2 separate regions of the Homo sapiens genome follow, and region 2 is linked to region 1. The links come from fine-mapping of genetic effects on gene expression. A gene starts in region 1. The other region holds a variant in brackets. All regions are shown on one strand. Distances are from middle to middle. Region 1 holds the start of PPP1R26 (protein phosphatase 1 regulatory subunit 26). Region 2 holds the start of LOC124902306 (a long non-coding RNA gene).

Region 1 (9,476 bases):
TTACTCTGCAAGGTTTTCCTGCCTTTGAGGAGGGGGTCACCTGTCCCGCCGCACTCCTGCTGGCCCCTCCAGGCCCTCCTGTTTGAGGAGAGGAGCAAACGTAGAAACAGTGTCTAGTAAGAATAAGGGCCCTCGCCCAATTTATTTTCTGCAGGGAATCAGAGCGAGAAAGTCATTTTCCTCCCAGATCCTGAATTGGAGGCACCCTGCTCTTGAATAAACCCAAGGTGACATGTCCTCATTTCCCACTGACGATGCACGCGGGGTCTCCTGAATAATTCTGTCTCGGGGGCTTATTTTCCGTTTCAGCTTAAAACGCTCCCTCATAAACAGATCATCATCAAGTCACGTTGTCCCCTGACATTGTAAGTAATAAACAGGGTAAAATTCACGCCAGGAAAATTCTAAGAACATAACGATCAAGAAATGAACCCAAATAAAGCCATGCAGAGTCACTTCTGGGGTAAATGGTTTCGAAAATTCTTTTGCAGAAATAGAATTTCTAAAGATTGAATCCAGTGGGCTCCCTGGACCCGGGTGGGAAGGGACTGGCCCCCTTTCTGCGGGCTCCGGGTCCGGATGGAGAGTGCCAGCTGCCCCACCTGGTGGCGGGTCTCCACGGACAGCCGAGCGTGCGCAGGGCTGTGCTCACAGTCATGAATATTCATGTCCTTCTGTTAAACAGCCTATGTCAGTCGGTTTACATACATAGGAGAGCAGTGCCTACCATTTTATTTTTTATTTTATTTATTATTCATTTATTTATTTTGAGATGGAGTTTTGCTCTTGCTGCCCAGGCTGGAGTACAATGGTGCAACCTCGGCTCACTGCAACCTCTGCCTCCTGGGCTCAAGCAATTCTCCTGCCTCAGCCTCCAAAGTAGCTGGGATTACAGGCACCCACCAACATGTCTGGCTAATCTTTTTTTTTTTTTTTTTTTTTTTTTTGTATTTTTAGTAGAGACGGGGTTTCACCACGTTGGCCAGGCTGGTCTCGAACTCCTGACCTCAACTGATCCACCCGCCTCCATCTCCCAAAGTGCTGGGATTACAGGCGTGAGACTGGTATGCTCACCGTTTTGAAAATTTAAATGGTATAAAAGAAGACAACACCAAAAGACAACACCAAAACCTCCCCTCCCCCTTGCTGGCCTTCCACTCAGGCCGCTCACACGGGTCCTGACATCTTCGTGCGTGTTCTGCCAGGTGGCACGCCAGCCCACCCTGATTCTGAAAATGCACCGGGGTGACACTTTACATCATTCTGCTGCAAGCGTTTTCCACTTTCTTATGCTCCCTGGACTCCTTCTGCACTGGGGCACACGGACCCGCCTCCCTTCCAGCAGAGGCCCAGAGGTGCAGGAGGTTCCAGGGTTCATTTCACTCTCCCCATCTGGTCACTTACGGGGGTTCTGCTTTGACAAGGTTGGAGCAGTCCTTGTTGGCGCGTGCCTGGACAAACTGCAAGTAACTTCAGGACGAAGGGCTAAGCAACACTCAAATGTGACCTGCAATTTATAGTTAACAGACACAGCAGGATGACCTCCCAACAGACACTGTGTCCTCCTGCCAGCAGGGTCTGGGGCGCCTGCATCCTTGGGTCCTCCCAGGGGACTGTGGAGCTTCCTTGTGTTGGGGGGAAATGTTGCCTTCTTTCACATGAGTTTCTTTGTTTTTGTTTTGAGACAGAGTCTCCCATCCCAGGTTCAAGCGATTCTCCTGCCTCAGCCTCCTGACAGCTGGGATTCCAGGTGTGCACCACCACACCCAGCTAATTTTTTTTTTTTTTTTTTTTTTTTTTTTAAGTAGAGACAGGGTTTCGCCATGCTGGCCAGGCTGGTCTTGAACTCCTGATCTCAGGCAATCCGCCCTCCTCGGCCTCCCAAAGTGCTGGGTTTACAGGCATGAGCCACTGAGCCCAGCCCTTGAGTTTTCTTTAATTATGACAATGTAACTAATTCTGTAAAGGAAAAGAGCAACAGAGGAACTGCTGGCTTTTCTTTATGAGCTCAGACTTTGGTCCCCAGCAGGCCCTCAGCCATCTCTCCCAGGCGGTCTCTCCACTCCACATGGAGAGTGACCTTCATGTGGTCCCACTGGACTCTTTGTGCCCTTCACAGAAGGCCAAGCAGAGGCCCAGAGGGGAGCAACAGCCACATAGGGACCCAAGAGCCCACCAGAGCCCCTCAGGTGAGACGTGCAGCCCACTGCACCTGTCCCTGCTGCCACCGCCCATCCACCCATGGACAGCAGAGCCCCGGGCTGGGCAGAAAGATGCCAGGAGTCCTCACTTCCTCCATGGCGGATAATGAAGGTGACCCTGCGTGCTGATCCCCGGAGGCACAGACTGCACAGTGAGGAGCCTGACTAGGGGGTCCCAAGGCCAAGGCCAGAGCCTCTCACAACAGGAGAGTCTGACAATGACAGACGCCCCTCCTGTTCCTCCAATGAAGGCCTCACAAGGCACTGTTGAGGCCTCCTAAGAATTTAATAAAAAAAAAAAAAAAAGCACCAACCAACCAATCTCTGAACATCGGTAGCTTCAAAAAAGGAGTACAAGTGTTCCCTGTTTTGAGAAACTATTATTACGTGCCACACACTCTGGCCCAGGAATTCCCCAAGAGCCCCAGGTCACACCCCTCCATGCCCTCCACTGTTCTCTTACTTTGGAATGCAGGGATTAAACTGGTGAATGATTATGAAATCTTAGAGTGGTAAAAGCTATTCCAGGCCTTACCCCAAAGCCAGAAACCACAAAAGAAAACTTGATTGATTTAGCTACAGAAGAACTTCAAACTTGTGTGTAGTAAAAAAATAAAAAGGCAGGACACAGTAGCTCCCATCTGTAATCCCAGCACTTTGGGAAGCCAAGGAGGGTGGATCACTCAAGCCAGGAGTTCAAGACCAGCCTGGGGAACATGGCAAAACCCCATCTCTACAAAAACATACAAAAACTAGCCAGGCGTGGTGACGTGCACCTGTAGTCCCAGCTACTGGGGAGGCTGAGGTGGGAGGATAACCTGAGCCGGGGGAGGTTGAGGCTGCAGTGCCATGATCACGCCACTACACTCCAGCCTGGGTGTACACAGAGTAAGACCCTGTCTCAAAAAAAAAAAAAAAAAAAAAAAAAGGTTGAACAAACAAAAAACCAAAATCCAAAGTCAAAAGAAAAATGACAGAAAAATAAATGCAATGTACAAGAGTATATTGTACTACTGTACAATATTCTGTGTTATTGTACTGTTGTACAATACACTTTTTTTCTGAGACAGAGTCTCGCTCTGTCACCCAGGCTGGAGTGCTGTGGCACCGTCTCGGTTCACTGCAACCTCCACCTCCTGGGTTCAAGCAATTCTCCTGCCTCAGCCTCCCGATTATCTGGGATTACAGGCACCCGCTACCACACCCGGTTAATTTTTGTATTTTTTAGTAGAGACGAGGTTTCATCATGTTAGCCAGGCTGGTCTCAAACTCCTGACTTCAGGTGATCTGCCCAACTTGGCCTCCCAAAGTGCTGGGATTACAGGGGTGAGCCGCCGCGCCCGACCATACATTGCATTTACGCTCTTGTACAGAGTAGCATACAGCACAGAGAAGAGCTAAATTCCTTACGGTAACAAGCTCTTAGAATCCCTAAGAAAAAGACACACAGCCCAACAGAAAAATAAAAAATGGGCAAAGAACACAGACAGGCAATATTCCAAATGGCCAATAATAAAATGAAAAGATGTTCAACATCACCAGCAGTCAAAGAAATTAGGATTCAAGTGATGAAAAGGGCTGTTTCGCCTATCAGACTGCCAAAGACATAACGCAATGACATATCTCAGGGCTGGCAAGAGGACAGGCAAGCGGGCATGCCCGCTCACCAGTGGGTGGACGGCAGGCTGGCCCCGCATTTCTGGAGGGCATTTTGGCAAAATGCAGCATAGTCTTTGGCCCGCCGGCCTCTTCTAGGGATTTGCCCGCAGGAAATGCTCAGAGCCGCTCTAAGGAGGCATCATGAAAGCTGTTCACCACAGCACTGTTTTAAAAACTGTGAAGCAGCATGCCAAAACCTTAACAGCCCATGTCTCTGGGAAGTCACCTTATTAATTAGATCATCTCCCCAAAGTTTGGTAATGAAAGAGTATTATTTCATGAGAAAAAAAAAATTGCTTTTTGAAAAAATTCACGAAGGCATTAAAACAATTCTTTAATGGGTTTCCTGACCCAAAACTGGCCCTCCAGCTTCCCAGGCTGGCATGACTAGAAGCACCCCTCCAAGGCAAGTCTCTGATTTTGATCCTATCAAATCTCTGACACTTTCTAGACAGGAACCGAACCCACAAATTCATCTCCCAGACACGTGTGGATCAGGGCCCAGGGGGCTTACAGAAGCAGCGCGGTGCCCCTGCGCACCATCTGCCCCTTCCACGAGTGGGCGCTGAGGGAGGATCCAGTCGGGTCTGCCCGTTCCCCGCCGCCCGGGGATGCTGAGCACACCCGGGCCACCGCCAGCCTCGGGCACACACCCTGGACCTTTTATAAAACAAAACTGGGAAGACTTTCAAGGTCACATGGTCAGTGCACAGCAGAAGCAGAAACAGCAGCGGCCTCAAGGTCCGGGGCAGTTCCTAGAAACTGTTCCCTCCCCCGAACCTGGCGGCAGGTGTGCTCGAGGAGCCGCCGCCCCGGGCAGGTCGTGCGTCCACTCCCCGCCGCAAGCTCGGGTGGGGCAGCCGCGGGGACACGCGGGGGCCGCCCCCGACCCCGGCCCAAGGCTGTGGGGCTGGAGGGGCGGGCGGGCCGGTCTCAGCCCGGAGCCCCGCGTGAACTTCGGGGAGGAACTCGGTTGGCGCCGGGGCCCCGCACGCTCCCTTCCCGCGGCTCCGAGCGCTTTCCCACGGCCACGCCCCCCGCGCCCAGAACTTCCCGGCGACCCCGCGCCCCCTGCGCGCCCCCCGGAGGTGGCCGCGGTACGGGAGGCGGGCAGCACGGGGCTCGGCCCGGCCCAAGCGCCTTCGCCCCGCACCCCGCGGAGGGGGCCGCGTCCGAACCGGGCGGGGCGGGGCGGGGGCGTCCCCGGGGCGCGGGCGCGGCGGCAGGTGGGCGCGCTCTCGCGGGCGGGGGTCCGGCCGGGCCGCGCGCCTCCCCCGGAACTCGGCCGTGCCATTCCCATGATGCCCAGCCACGGGCACGGCTTCCGGAGTGCGGCCGCCGCCGCCACCGTCCGGTAGGTCGCGGGGAGGGGGCGGCTTGGGGGGGTCGCCCCGCCCCCCGCCCCGCCCCTCCCCTCCCGCGCTTCCCACGGCGCGGCCCGGGCGCGGGGCGGCGGCAGCGGCGGCGCGCGGGGAGGCGGGGAGGCGGGGGGCCCGGCCGGACGCCCCTGCGCCCCCTCCCCGCGCCCCGGCCGAGGGCGGAGCGCGCTGGCCCTGCAGCCTCCGGCCCGCCCCCGGCCCGCCGCCTCCCCCGGGACGTGGGACGCGGGCGCAGGCGGGGTCCGCGCGGCGGGCGGCGGGGGACGGGCGGAGGTGAGCGGGTGCAGGGCCGGGGCCGGGGGGCTCGGGGGCTGGGAAGCTGGGGGGTCGGGGACAGGAGGGCCAGCCAGGCCGGGGCCGGCGCGCCGTGCAGGCCGCGGCGGGCGGGCGGCGGGGGCTCCCCGAGGCAGGCGGACGGGGATCGGCGCCGGGGCTGCTCCGTTCCCCGGGCGGGGATCCTGTCTCTGGCCTCCGTGCGACTCTCGGCCCGCGCGCCCCGCGCTCCTGGAGCCCCAGGTGAGGCGCAGGTGAGGGCCCGCGGTGGGGAGCTTTGGCCCGGCCCGGGGCGGCCGCTGCCCTCCGAGAATGGCCGCGGCCCGGCCGGCCTGGAGACTGCGGTTCACGCCCTGCGCCAGGCGGAGCTTCCGGGAGGGTGGCCGCTCTCCCGGGCCCCAAGCTCGCTAGTCCTCGGATCCCAGAAACATAACTCCGGGGGTGCAGACCTGCTTGGAGGCCCGGCCTCTTCCCTGGGAGGCGTTCACTCCCGCCGGGCCGAGGACCAGGTCGCCGATCCCAGCGGCTAGGGTGAGCGCGCCCTCGGGGAGGGGAGCTCCCTTGGGGGACCCTGCCCAGCCCGCAGGCCGTGAGTAGCCCAAGCTTGGGAGTCAGGGGAGGTCGGGCCGGGGCAGCCGGGAGGGGCTCACCTTGCCTTCAGTTCCCAAGCACAGGAAATGGCGGTGCAGCTTTGCTGGGGGACGCTTGTAGTGAGGTTGTAAAATTGCAGCTTCTGGAAGGCTGGGAGCTGAATTCTAGCCCACGCCCACTTCTGGGTGGCTGGAGCGGGTCCTCCTGCTGCCCCGCCCGCTCCTGCACCGGGGCTCCTCTCCCTGGCCTGCAGACCCTGGCCTCCCTACCCTGGGGGGAAACCCCACCTGGGAGGTAAGACCGCTGGCTGAGCTGCTTTTCGGCCAACCGAGAAATGTAGAGTATTTGGGGGCGTTTCTCACAGGTGGGCAGACTGTTAGGATGGCGAGGGCCCAGTGTGGGTGCTTTGGTTCTCTCCAGAAGGTTGATGTCTGGACCGAGAAGGTACCCGAGTGTTCTCCACCGCTTCCTAAAATCTGACACCGTGTGGCCTTGGGGTGCAGGTGCTGGGTGTCCCCACAGCCACCCTCAAGACCGTATCCTGAGGCAGCAATTTGACAAAGCCTGCACCTCTGGCTTGGGCCCACACCTATCTCTAAGGACTGATTAGGGGGCTTTTCTTGTTTTTTTTTTTTTTTTTTTTTTAGAGCCAGAGTCTCGCTTTGTCGCCCAGGCTGGAGTGCAATGGCTGATCTCGGCTCACTGTAATCTCCGCCTCCCTGGTTCAAGCGATTCTCGTGCCTCAGCCCCTGGAGTAGCTGGAACTACAGACGTGGGCTCCCACGCCCAGCTAATTTATGTGTTTTTAGTAGAGATGGGGTTTCGCCATGTTGGCCAGGCTGGTCTCGAACTCCTGGCCTCAAGTGATCCACCTGCCTCCACCTCCCAGAGTGCTGGGATTACAGGTGTGAGCCACTATCCCCGACCCAGGGGGCTTTTCAAGAATGATTCATCTCGCATAATGTTTTAAAGCCACAAGCTGTCCTGGGGAGACGACCCCCCTCGATTTTTTTTTTTCTTTCTGAGATGGAGTCTCGTTCTGTCTCCTAGGCTGGAGTGCAGTGGCGCGATCTCGGCTCACTGCAACCTCTGCCTCCTGGGTTCAAGCAATTCTCCTGTCTCAGCCTCCCCAGTAGCTGGGATTACGGGCACACGCCACCACGCCCAGCTAATTTTTGTATTTTTAGCAGAGGAGGGGTTTCACCATATTGGCCAGGCTGGTCTCAAACTCCTGACCTCAGGTGATCCACCTGCCTCAGCCTCCCAAAGTGCTGGGATTACAGGCGTCAGCCACTGCACCTGGCCAGATTTTTTAATACCATTCTTGAACTAGGTGATTTGACAACTTAGAAAACTGTTCACTGGGTGTCCAGGCCTTCTCTGCAACCAGTCAGAAGCTGTAAATGTGGCTAGTGGAGAACAGACTATTTCCCCAGGAAAACTCCCCTCCCCGACCTTGTCATCTAGTGTAAAGACACTGACTTGGGCCGGTTTTCTTAAGGTAGTATTTAAGGTAGTATTCTTAAGGTAGTATTGCTGTTTAAGGAGTCAATAGTCTTAATTTAGACGCTCCTCAGCCCAAGGCTAATGCAAATGTTTTGTCATTTATGTCATTTTGCAGAGGCAATTTGAATAACACCTACAGTAAGGCAGGCGTGGGTTTGCTAGCCAGTGAAAGAGCTCCTCTCGCATTGTTGGTCCCCCAGTGCTCTGTGTCAGTGGGGAATCTCTCCAGAAGGTGACTTTATGGGGGATGTCATGGGCTGCAGTGGGTGGCCAGAATTTGAGAACTAGCAGATAACGTCACATACGTGCCCCATCCCCATCACTTCAGCCAGCATCAGATCTGCTGTCCAGGATAGCTATACATTACTTGTGGTTAAATGTATTTGTCTTAATACATTAAGTTAAATATATTTGTACTTGTGGTTAAATGTCTTAGAGTAAGTTCCTTCAAAAGTTAATTTTGAGCCCTTAAGTTAATGATATTTCTTTCCAAAAAAAAAAAATTTATCAACTGTAGCTTCAGCCTGTAATTAGATGCCTCTGATTCTCTTTGATTCTGGTAGTCAAAAGTCTATTGAAAAAGCAGAGAGAGAATGCCTCGGTGTGTAAGTGGAGTGATGAGGACCTGATCTCTGGGCCGTGTGGGAACACTGGCTGCCATTTCATCACAGTCAACCTGGACTCACAGAATTTCAAGTAATTTCAAGTAATTCTTGTATTTTAGTTTCCCTTGTAGGGCACAAATTGGTGCTAGCAAATGACTTACTTCTGAATCTGTCTCACCCCCTGGTTAATTGCTGGTTACCCCTTTTGGGCTCACCTGTGTGTAGGTGGCCAGGCTCACCTTTTGTTTCTTTTTCTTTCTTTCTTTTTTTTTTTTTTTTTTTTGAGATGGAGTCTCATTCTGTCGCCCAGACTGGAGTGCAGTGGCATGATCTCAGCTCACTGCAAACTCTACCTCCTGGGTTCGAGCAATTCTCCTGCCTCAGCCTCCCAAGTAGCTGGGATTACAGGCATGCGCCACCATGCCCGGCTAATTTTTGTGTTTTTTTAGTAGAGATGGAGTTTCACTATATTGGTCAGGCTGATCTTGAGCTCCTGACCTCAGGTGATCCACCCGCCTCGGCCTTCCAAAGTGCTGGATTACAGGCGTGAGCCACCACACCTGGCCACAGCCTCACGTTTTTGTGAAAAGATGGTGGCATGTAAATACCCAATTATGTGCTTGTCAGGAAGGAAGCGCCTGGTTAACCGGAGAAAGCTCCTGGTAAAGAAGAATCCATAACAGAGGCAAAACATACTGGCCAGTTTTCGCCCACTGCTGAGGTCCTGAGGGCAGCCACAGCCTCTGAGCCAAGGGGAGTTCAGTGTCCATAAGCCTTGGAGGCTTGCTTGCACAAGAACCGCTTTGCACTGCAATTTTGGGGTAGGCAGGTGGGTATCAGAGCAATGTGTTAAGAATGAATAGCTGCGCAGTATCCCTGGTATTGTTCTAAGTGACTGCCATCCACCTGAGCTTCCTCCCTGCAGTGGCAATCCCCAGGCCATTCGTGAGCAGGTCTTCAAAGTGTCCCAAGCTCAGCCCAGCACTTGTGCTGAGGCAGCCACCTTTGGTCTGAAATCTGGCAGCGCAGGATGAGAAGGGGGACATCACTGTGTTCAGGGTGACTTCTGTGCTAGTTAGCTAAGAATAACAATGCAGTCCCATGCGACCACCTGGCAAATTTACATTTGACATTTAACATAGAGAGGGTTTAGTAAAAGCAGCCCTTCAAGATGTTTGGGGAAATAATTTCTGAGTGGCTCACATCATACAACTTTCCGTTCCAGGAGCTTGTCGGTTGGGTCAAGAATGAACCTACGCATG
Region 2 (9,476 bases), 37 kb before region 1:
TTGACTCCTAGAGTTACATACTCTCCTCTTTTCCAATGGGGATTAAGTAGTTCTAATGGGTTATAGCACACATCAGTCTGGTCACTTCCTGGGCTGCATACCTTGTACTGGGTGGCATTATACACACAAGTCCCTTTTAAACAAAGACTGTTTTAACTTTTTGCCCTACCTCAGTCTGAGGAAGGTCAGTTGAAGTCCTTACTGTACAAGTCCAAAATTTATGAAAAATGAGTTCCACGATGAGCTTCCTCATGCTTCAGCCATGCGTGGACCAGTCAGCTTCCGGGTGTGACTGGAGCAGGGCTTGTCGTCTTCTTCAGGGTCACTCTGCAAGGGTTGTCCAGGCTTGGTCTTGCCTCCCAGGTTTCAGGCGCTGCAGGTTTTACACGGCTGCGGTGGATCCAGGCTGGGATTCCCTCTACCTTCACAGCGGTGGGAGTGGTCAGGATGACAGTCTGGGGTCCTTTCCACCGTGGGCACAAAGAGGCTACGTTCCAGTCCTTGATCCATACTCGATCTCCTGGGGAGAAAGGGTGAACTGGGGAGAATAAGCTAACAGGGCATCTCTTATTTACCCAGGCTGAGATTGTTTGTGTAATTTTTCCTAAAGCATGTAGCTGTCGCTGTAACTCAGTCTCACCTAACTCTCCTGGAAGTCCCCACGATAAGGGAGAGGGTCCATGATTAATATTTCATAAGGGGAATATCCTGTTCTTTTAGAAGAGGTACACCTAATTTTAAATAATACCATAGGGAGAGCCTGTATCCATTTTAATCCTGTTTCTTGACGTACTTTCCCTAAACTATTTTTGATAGTCCGATTCATCCGCTCCACCTTTCCGGAACTCTGAGGCCGGTAGGCGGCATGCAGTTTCCATGTGATCCCCAATACCTTTGCCATCTTCTGTACCAAGTCAGCCACAAACGCAGGCCCGTTATCTGAGCCGATCCATAAGGGCAGTCCAAATCTAGGAATCAGATCTTGAAGAAGCACACGGGTTACTTCACGAGGTTTCTCAGTTCGTGTTGGATAAGCCTCCACCCACCCAGAGTGGGTACACACGAGAACTAGTAAATACTTGTTACCTCCACACTTTGGCATTTCTGTGAAGTCCACCTGGAGATCTATCAAAGGGGGCTGCTCCGTAAGTTTGTATGCCGGGTGGAATGGCTGGACCTCGCCTCGCATGATGCTGTTGGCAGGTAACACACTGCTGCATCACCGTTTTGGCAAGGGCTGACAAATGCGAGATGTAGAAATACCGGCCTAACAACTTTTCCAGTGACTCCTGACCTCGATGGGTGGTTTCCTGCACAGCCAGTACAACTGCAGCTCCTCGCAGCTGTGGTGCAGCTACTCTCCCATCTGGTAACCGAATCCATCCTTCCTCCATCACTTGTCCTCCCTCTACCTGGAGAAAGTCCTTTTCATCTTTAGAAGAAGTAGGTACAAGATCAGGTGCTTGAGGGAGCAGAGGCGCTGTGACTGATGCCCAGAAGGGGGCAGATGCTGCTTTTTGAGCCTCTGAGTCACTGCGGGGATTCCCCAAACCCACCAAGGTGGAAGCTCGCTGGTGTCCTCTGCAATGCATAACTGCCACCTTGTGGGGTTTCCATATTGTTTCTAATCATTGCAAGATTTCTTGTTGATATTTTATGTCTTTTCCCCCAGAGTTCAATAGGCCCTTTTCTTTATATAATGCACCATGCACTTGAAGGGTTAAAAAGGCATACCGAGAATCACTGTAAATGTTGACAGTCTCACCCTCCCTGAGCTCTAAGGCCCGAATGAAAGCAATGAGTTCAGCTTTCTGGGCTGAAGTGCCCTGGGGCAATGATCTGGCTTCAACAACGGTGTCCAGGGTTACCACTGCATACCCTGCACATCTCTCTCCTTGTGGGTTGATGAAGCTGCTCCCGTCCACGTATAGTTCCCAGTCTACTGATGCCCAAGGCCAGTCCCGGAGGTCAGGTCTGCTAGAGTCAATTGAATCTAACACTTCTACACAATCATGCTCGACAGGGCTCTCTGATACCGGTGTAACGCCCAAACTCGTTTTTACTAACCCTGTTTTTAGACTCCCCCTTTTCCTTTAATCACGCAGCATTGTTGCCACCTGAATGGACTCTCCCTTAGCTAAGAGAACCAGACAGACTCCATCTTGGCTCTTTCATTGGCAGCCCCTTCCTCAAGGACTTAACTTGTGCAAGCTGACTCCCAGCACATCCAAGAATGCAATTAACTGATAAGATACTGTGGCAAGCTATATCCGCAGTCCCCCAGAATTCATCTGATTGATAATGCCCAAAGCCCCGCATCTATCACCTTGTAATAGTCTTAAAGCCCCTGCACCTGGAACTGTTTACTTTCCTGTAACCATTTATCCTTTTAACTTTTTGACTACTTAACTTCTGTAAAATTGTTTTAACCAGACCCCCCTACTCCCCTTCCTAAACCAGGGTATAAAAATTAATCAAGTCCCTTCCTCGGGGCCGAGAGAATTTTGAGCGTTAGCTTTCTCTCGGTCACCAGCTAATAAAGGACTCTTAACTCGTCTCAAAGTGTGGCGTTAGGACTCTTAACTCGTCTCAAAGTGTGGCGTTTTTCTAATTCACTCGGGTACAACACCGGGAGCAAAGTGGCAGGGTTCAAGATGTTACAAACTTCAGTGGTTATACGGGGATTTTCACAGAGAAAACTTTGGTACTTGGTGAGTGTGGCATTCGTTAGCCAATGATGTCCTTTAGTATTCATTAAAGTCACCACAGCACGGGAGGCCTTTATGTTCAGGTGTTGCCCAAGAGTCAGCTTATTTGCTTCTTGTACTAGCAGGGCAGTTGCTGCCAAGGCCCTCAAACACGGGGGCCATCCTTTAGGAACCCCATCTAGTTGTTTAGAGAGGTAGGCCACCGGCCTCGGCCAGGGCCCCACAGTTTGGGTTAAAACTCCACGTGCCACCTTTTCTCTCTCTGACACATACAATGTAAAAGGTTTTGTCAGATCGGGCAGCCCCAGGGCTGGGGCTGACGTACGTTTTTTCTTTAAGTCAGGCTTGCTGTTGTTGGGATCCCCATTCAAAAGGTTCCCGGTCCCCGCCCCCTTTGTGACCTCATACAAATGCTTGGCTAATACTGCAAAGTTTGGGATCCACAGTCTACAAAACCCCACAGGTCCTAAGAATTCTCTCACCTGCCTTCTGCTCTTAAGCTCCGCTAGATGGCAAATAACCTGCTTTCTTTCTGATCCCAGGCTGCGCTCCCCCTGTCGGACAGTAAATCCCAGTAACATATCTGCTGTCAGCAGATCTGAGCTTTTTTCTTGGACACCTTATACCCACGGTCCTCCAGGTGCCGGAGTAGGGCAGCCGTTCCCTTGGCGCACCCAACTGCCATGGGGTGTCCCAGCAAAAGGTCATCAACATACTGGAGCAATACGCAGCCTAGGTCTCTGGTGGGAAACTTCTGGAGGTCTCGAGCCAACGCCTCCCCGAAGATGGTGGGGGAGTTCTTAAACCCTTGGGGAAGCCGGGTCCAAGTGTACTGAGTAGTGACACCTCACTGCGGATCTTCCCACTGAAAGGCAAACAGCTTCTGGCTCTCAAGGGCTAATCTGATACTAAAGAAAGCGTCTTTTAGGTCCAAGCAGGTGAACCAGCTGTCCTCAGCTGGCAGCAACCCCAACAATGTGGACGGGTTAGGTACTGTTGGATGGAAAGTCACTGTAGCTTGATTAACCAAGCACAAATCCCGTACCGGCCTGTAGTCCTTGGTCCCTGGCTTGGGAACAGGCAGGAGGGGAGTGTTCCATGGAGACTGACAAGGAACTATAATTCCAAAAGTTCTTAGGTGTTTGAGGCGAACCTGGATACCTTTAAGAGCTTCTCTGGGGACTGGGGACTGTTTTTGCCTAACCGGCTGGGCCCCAGGCTTAACTTCCATATTCAGGGGCTTGGTTGACTGCCAATCCTGGAGGGTTGTCTTCCGCCCACACTCTTGGCCACCGCTTAGCCAAAGCTGGTCTTATCTCTTGGCCC[G/A]GCTCAGTTAAGAAAAGTCTCTATTCCTCCTCTCAGGGGACCATAAGGGTCATAACGACTCCCGTTCCGGGTAACTTTAGCAGCAAAGAGCCATGCTCTGTAAAAGAGACAGTGGCTCTCAGCTTGCTAAGCAAGTCCCTTCCCAACAAGGGCAAGGGACAGTCAGGCATGTACAGAAACTGACGAATCACTGTATGTCCTCCTACAGCACAAGTCCGAGGCAAGCAGAAAGCTTGCTTTGCTGAAACCCCCATGGCTCCGATGATGTCAATAGTCTTTTTGGATAAGGGGGCAACTGGGGCGGTTACTACCGAATGTTCAGCAACGGTATCTACAAGAATATCAATGTCTTTACCCCCGACTGTCATGCTGACCATAGGCTCTTTCGGGGCACTTGAGCCCGGTCCCCCTGAGTCCAATAACCCTTCTGCCAGGTTGAGCAGGGCCCCTTCCTCCTCGTCTGGGGCCTCCTGCTCTGAGTCACCTTGTTTTCTTTTTAGCTGAGGGCATTTGTTCTTCCAATATCCTATTTCTTTACAATAAGCACACTGGTTACTCTGCAAGCTCTGACAACCAAGTTGAGTTTTTTCCCAGGGCCCCCTTCCCTGGCCTCTTTGGGGGGACCCCTCTGATTGCTGCAGCTAACAGGTCGGCCTTTCGCCAGGCCTGACGTTCATTCTCTTTGCGGTTTTCCTTACGGCTTACTGCATCCCTGTTTACAAACACCTGGTTAGCTATTTCTAGTAACTGATGTGTTCATCCCTGCAAACCCAGTCTGTTTCTGCAGTTTTCTTCTAATGTCTTCTGCGCTTTAACTAAAGCCATTTGAATCATGCGCTGATTTTCACGGCTATCGGGATCAAAGGGAGTATACATGCGATAGGCCTCACACAGTCTCTCAGAGAATTGTGCTGGACTTTCTTCTTTTCCCTGAATGACCTCAGAGACCTTGTTAACGTTTGTGGTCTTCTGAGCTCCCCTCTTTAACCCTTCCAAGACAGCTTCCCTGTCTCCCTTTAGCCTTTGCATATCCTCTCTTTCATTTGGGCCCCACTGGGGGTCGGTTCCTGGTAACTGGGTCCTTACATACTCTTGGGGGTTTTGATAATCAGCTGGTGCATGTTCCTCTAGCCACTTAGTTGCTGCTTGGAGCACTCTCCACCTTACATCTGCATTAAAGAGGAACATGAGCAGCTGGTGGCAATCAGCCCAAGTGGGGTTATGGGTCTGCATAATAGTTGGGAGCAAATCAATTTGAGCTTGTGGCTTTTCGGTATAGGACGGGGTATTGTTTTTCCAGTTGAGAAGGTCGGCAGAGGTGAAGGGCTGGTACACAAAAACACGCCTCTCCACCATGTGACCATCCTCATCTCTCCCAGTATACTGCTGCTCTCTCAGGTGCATTTGTATCCCAGTTTTGGGTCTTAAACGAGCTGCCAAGGGAGGGGTTTCTCCCGAGGCTTCACCTCCTCTCTTGTCTATTCTGGGTGGCCTAGGGATATGCTTGTCTTGCAGAGGTGCAAGCACTGTGGGCTCAAGACTGGGGAGCCTCTCTCCCTGGTAAGGGGAGGGCACCACTGGGATCACTGGTGCCATCTCCTGCAATGGATCTTCTGATGTTGGGTCAAACAGAACTTCAGGAGTTGATTTCCCTGGGCGGGTGGAGCGGGATCCTTCCTTGGCTATCTGTCCCTTTGCTACTAGCATTGCTGCTGCCTGCCCTCTTAGCCACTGTGGGGGGTCTAGCACCAGCTGTAACCAAGTGTCTATGTATGGGAACTGGTCTAGGTATCCTTTACCGGTTACCTTGTGCCACACCTTAGAAACAAGGGAACTGTCCAGGCTTCCTTCTGATGGCCAACCCACTTCTAATGTTGGCCAATCTATTTCACACAAAGTTCTAAGTTTCCCTGGTGTCATAGTAACCCCATAGTCTCCATTAAATCCTTCCTTGAAATTTTTCAACATAGTTCCTAGCGGAGTGGGCTTACTTTGTGTCTGACCCGTTTCCTCGAGACAAAACACCACGCTCACACCACACGCACACCACAGAACAAAGAACAGGTAAAAAAGGCACACACACACTTTCTCAGTTTACACCAGACCAGAATCAAAACCAAAACTGGAGTATCCAGAAATCCAAGCCAGGTCAAAACCAAAACCAAAGTATCAAGCAATCCAAGTCAAGTCAAAAACAAGAACCAAAGTGCCGGTACAGGCACACCATGGGTGATCAAGCCACACTTCCACTCAAATGGAGTGGGCAAGTTCCAAAGACCAGTCTTACCAAGTTTCAGATGTCCAGACCAGATGTTCAGTGCCAGTTCCTTCCCGGTGTTCAGCCATTGCGTTGAACCTCCACCGGGGCCTGCCACGCGCTGCTCTGACGAGGCGTTCCACCGGGGCAATTTCCTACGTGGGAGCGCTCTCAGGATCCGCGTTGCTGGAGCTGGTCGGAGTCCCCCGCAGGGATGCTCCACAGGGCAGGCCTAAGCGGCCTAAAGGGCTGCCTCAACGGTCCGTTAATCACCTCGTTTCCCAGTCAGGGAACCAAGAAATGTAACAGGACCAGCGGCAGACAAAACTCCTCAGACACCGGATTAAAGAAGGAAGAGGTTTTTTCATTCGGCCGGGAGCATTGGCCGACTGGTGTCTTAAGAGCCCAGCTCCCCGAAGACAGAGTTCCTGGCCCTTTTAAGGGCTAAGTGGTTCCACGTGAAAGGGTCGTGATGGATTGAGAGCACCTGTGGTTAGAGTGGGGGGGGCGGGGCTTAATCTTTTAACCTCAGGCCGGGTCATCAGTGGCACAAGCTGGTCTTGCCACTGACTTCATTCCTGTTGTTTTTCAACTTTTACTTCCTCCTCTTTTTCAGAGACAGGAGACAGTAAGAGAAATGGCTTCTCGCCTCACCACCTCACACCCATTAGGATGGCTACTGCTAAAAAAAAAAAGTGTTGGTGAAGCTGTAAAGAAATTGAAACATTTGCAGGGCCGTACACGGTGGCTGACACCGGTAATTCTAGAACTTTGGGAGGTCAAGACGGGAAATCACTTGAGCCCAAGAGTTTGAGACCAGCCTGGGCAACATAGCAAGACTCTATCTCTACAAAAAAAATACGAAAATTAGCCAGGCATGGTGGTGTGTGCCTGTGGTCCCAGCTACTCGGGAGACTGAGGTGGGAGGATCGCTTGAGCCTTGGAGGTGGAGGTGGCCCCACTGCACTCCAGCCTGGGGGACAGAGCCAGACCCTGTCTCAAAACAAACAAACAAAAACTCATTTGCGTACTGTTGATGAGAATATAAAATGGTACAGCTGCTTGGGGAAATACTATGACATTTCCTCACAAAAGCAAAAAAAGAATAACCAAATGGTCCAGGAATTCTTCTGGGCATATACGCAAAAGAATTGAAAGCAGGGTCTCTAAGAAATATTTTCATACCCGTGTTCCTAACAGCATTATTCACAATCACTGAAACAGAAGCAACCCAAGTGTCCACCCACAGGTGAACGGACAAGCAAAATGTGGTATATACGAACCACGGAATATTATTCAGCCTTAAAAAGGAACACAATTCTAGCTGGGTGCAGTGGCTCATGCCTGTAATCCCAGCACTTTGGGAGGCCAAGATGGGTGGATCACGAGGTCAGGAGATCAAGACCATCCTGGCTAACACGGTGAAACCCCATCTCTACTAAAAATACAACAAATTCGCCGGGCGTGGTGGCGGGCGCCTGTAGTCCCAGCTACTCCGGAGGCTGAGGCAGGAGAATGGGGTGAACCCAGGAGGTGGAGCTTGCAGTGAGCCGAGATCACGCCACTGCACTCTAGCCTGGGCGACAGAGCAAGACTCCGTCAAAAAAAAAAAAAAAAAAGGAACGCAATTCTGACACATGCTACAGGGCGGACGGATCTTAAGGACACTGTGCTAAGCGACACAAACCAGTCACATAAAGGCAGATGCTTTAGGATTCTACTTACGTGAGGGGCCTAGAGCAGTCCAATTCATGGTGACAGAGTGGAAAGGTGGTTGCAGGAGCTGGAAGGGGATCGTGGGAGGTTGTTGAATGAGTGTACAGCTTCAGCTTTACAAGGTGGAAAGAGTTCTGAAGATGCTTGGTGGCAATGGCCGCACAGTATTATAAATTTACTTAATGCAACTAAGCTTTACACTTAAAAAGGGTTAAGATGGTAAATTTTATGTTATGTCTGTTTTACCACAATTTTTTGTTTGTTTGTTTGAGAAGGAGTCTTGCTTTGTCATCCAGACCGGAGTGCAGTGGCGCGATCTCAGCTCACTGCAACCTCCACCTCCTGGGTTCAAGCATTTATCCTGCCTCAGCCTCCTGGGTTGCTGGGATTACAGGCGTGGGTCACCACGCCGGGCTAATTTTTGTATTTTTAGTAGAGATGGGGTTTCGCCATGTTGGCCAGGCTGGTCTCGAACTCCTGACCTCAAATGATTAGCCCACCTCGGCCTCTCAAAGTGCTGGGATTACAGGCACGAGCCACCATGCCCAGCCTATTTTACCACAGCTTTCAAAATGGGAAGAAGATAAGAGATTCTATTCATCAAAAGATTCCAGGAAGAAAAGGAAAAGGCAAGTTAGAAAGTGGAATAAAATATTTGTAATATATGTAACCAAAAATAGCCATTTTCAGTCATTTCCATTTTATTATTTAAAGAAATTTTATGAAGCAGCAAGAAAAATGATCATTAACACAATAGGAAAAATAGACAAGAGGCCTGACCCAGCACTTCACCAAAGAGTGTATTTAGCCATTCCAGACGGGGGAGGCGGGGAAACAGGTGAATAGGAAGGGCTGTCTGGGGTGGGGGGAGGGGAGGGGAAACAGGTAAAGAGGAAGGGCTGGCTGGGGTGGGGGGAGGGGGAGAAACAGGTGAAGAGGAAGGGCTGTCTGGGGTGCAGGGAGGGGAAACAGGTGAAGAGGAAGGGCTGTCTGGGGTGCAGGGAGGGGAAACAGGTGAAGAGGAAGGGCTGGCAGGGGTCTGGGGAGGAGAGGGGAAACAGGTGAAGAGGAAGGGCTGGCAGGGGTGGGGGGAGAGGGGGAAAACAGGTGAAGAGGAAGGGCTGGCAGGGGTGGGGGGAGGGGGAGGGGAAACAGGTGAAGAGGAAGGGCTGGCAGGGGTGGGGGGAGTAGGGGGGAAACAGGTGAAGAGGAAGGGCTGGCTGGGGTGGGGGGAGATGGGGGAAACAGGTGAAGAGGAAGGGCTGGCCGGGATCAGGGGAGAGGGGGGAAACAGGTGAAGAGGAAGGGCTGGCAGGGGTGGGGGGAGGGGGAGGGGAAACAGGTGAAGAGGAAGGGCTGGCTGGGGTGGGGGGAGAGGGGGAAAACAGGTGAAGAGGAAGGGCTGGCAGGGGTGGGGGGAGGGGGAGGGGAAACAGGTGAAGAGGAAGGGCTGGCAGGGGTGGGGGGAG

The links. PIP is the estimated chance that this variant, and not a neighbour inherited with it, causes the effect.
Region 2: its variant is the best candidate, but not a certain one, in a credible set for the expression of PPP1R26 in whole blood (TOPMed, PIP 0.76).

Annotation. Positions count from the first base shown.
Region 1 is chr9:135,474,511-135,483,986 of GRCh38, forward strand. PPP1R26 (protein phosphatase 1 regulatory subunit 26) reads left to right here and starts at 5,272. Exons shown (of 4, transcript NM_014811.5): 1 at 5,272-5,512; 2 at 8,173-8,305; 3 at 9,440-9,476. RefSeq lists silencers at 5,794-5,853, 5,864-5,913.
Region 2 is chr9:135,437,549-135,447,024 of GRCh38, forward strand. LOC124902306 (a long non-coding RNA gene) reads right to left here and starts at 6,703. Exons shown (of 2, transcript XR_007061850.1): 1 at 6,322-6,703; 2 at 1-520. The variant G/A (reference allele first, on the strand shown) is at 4,035.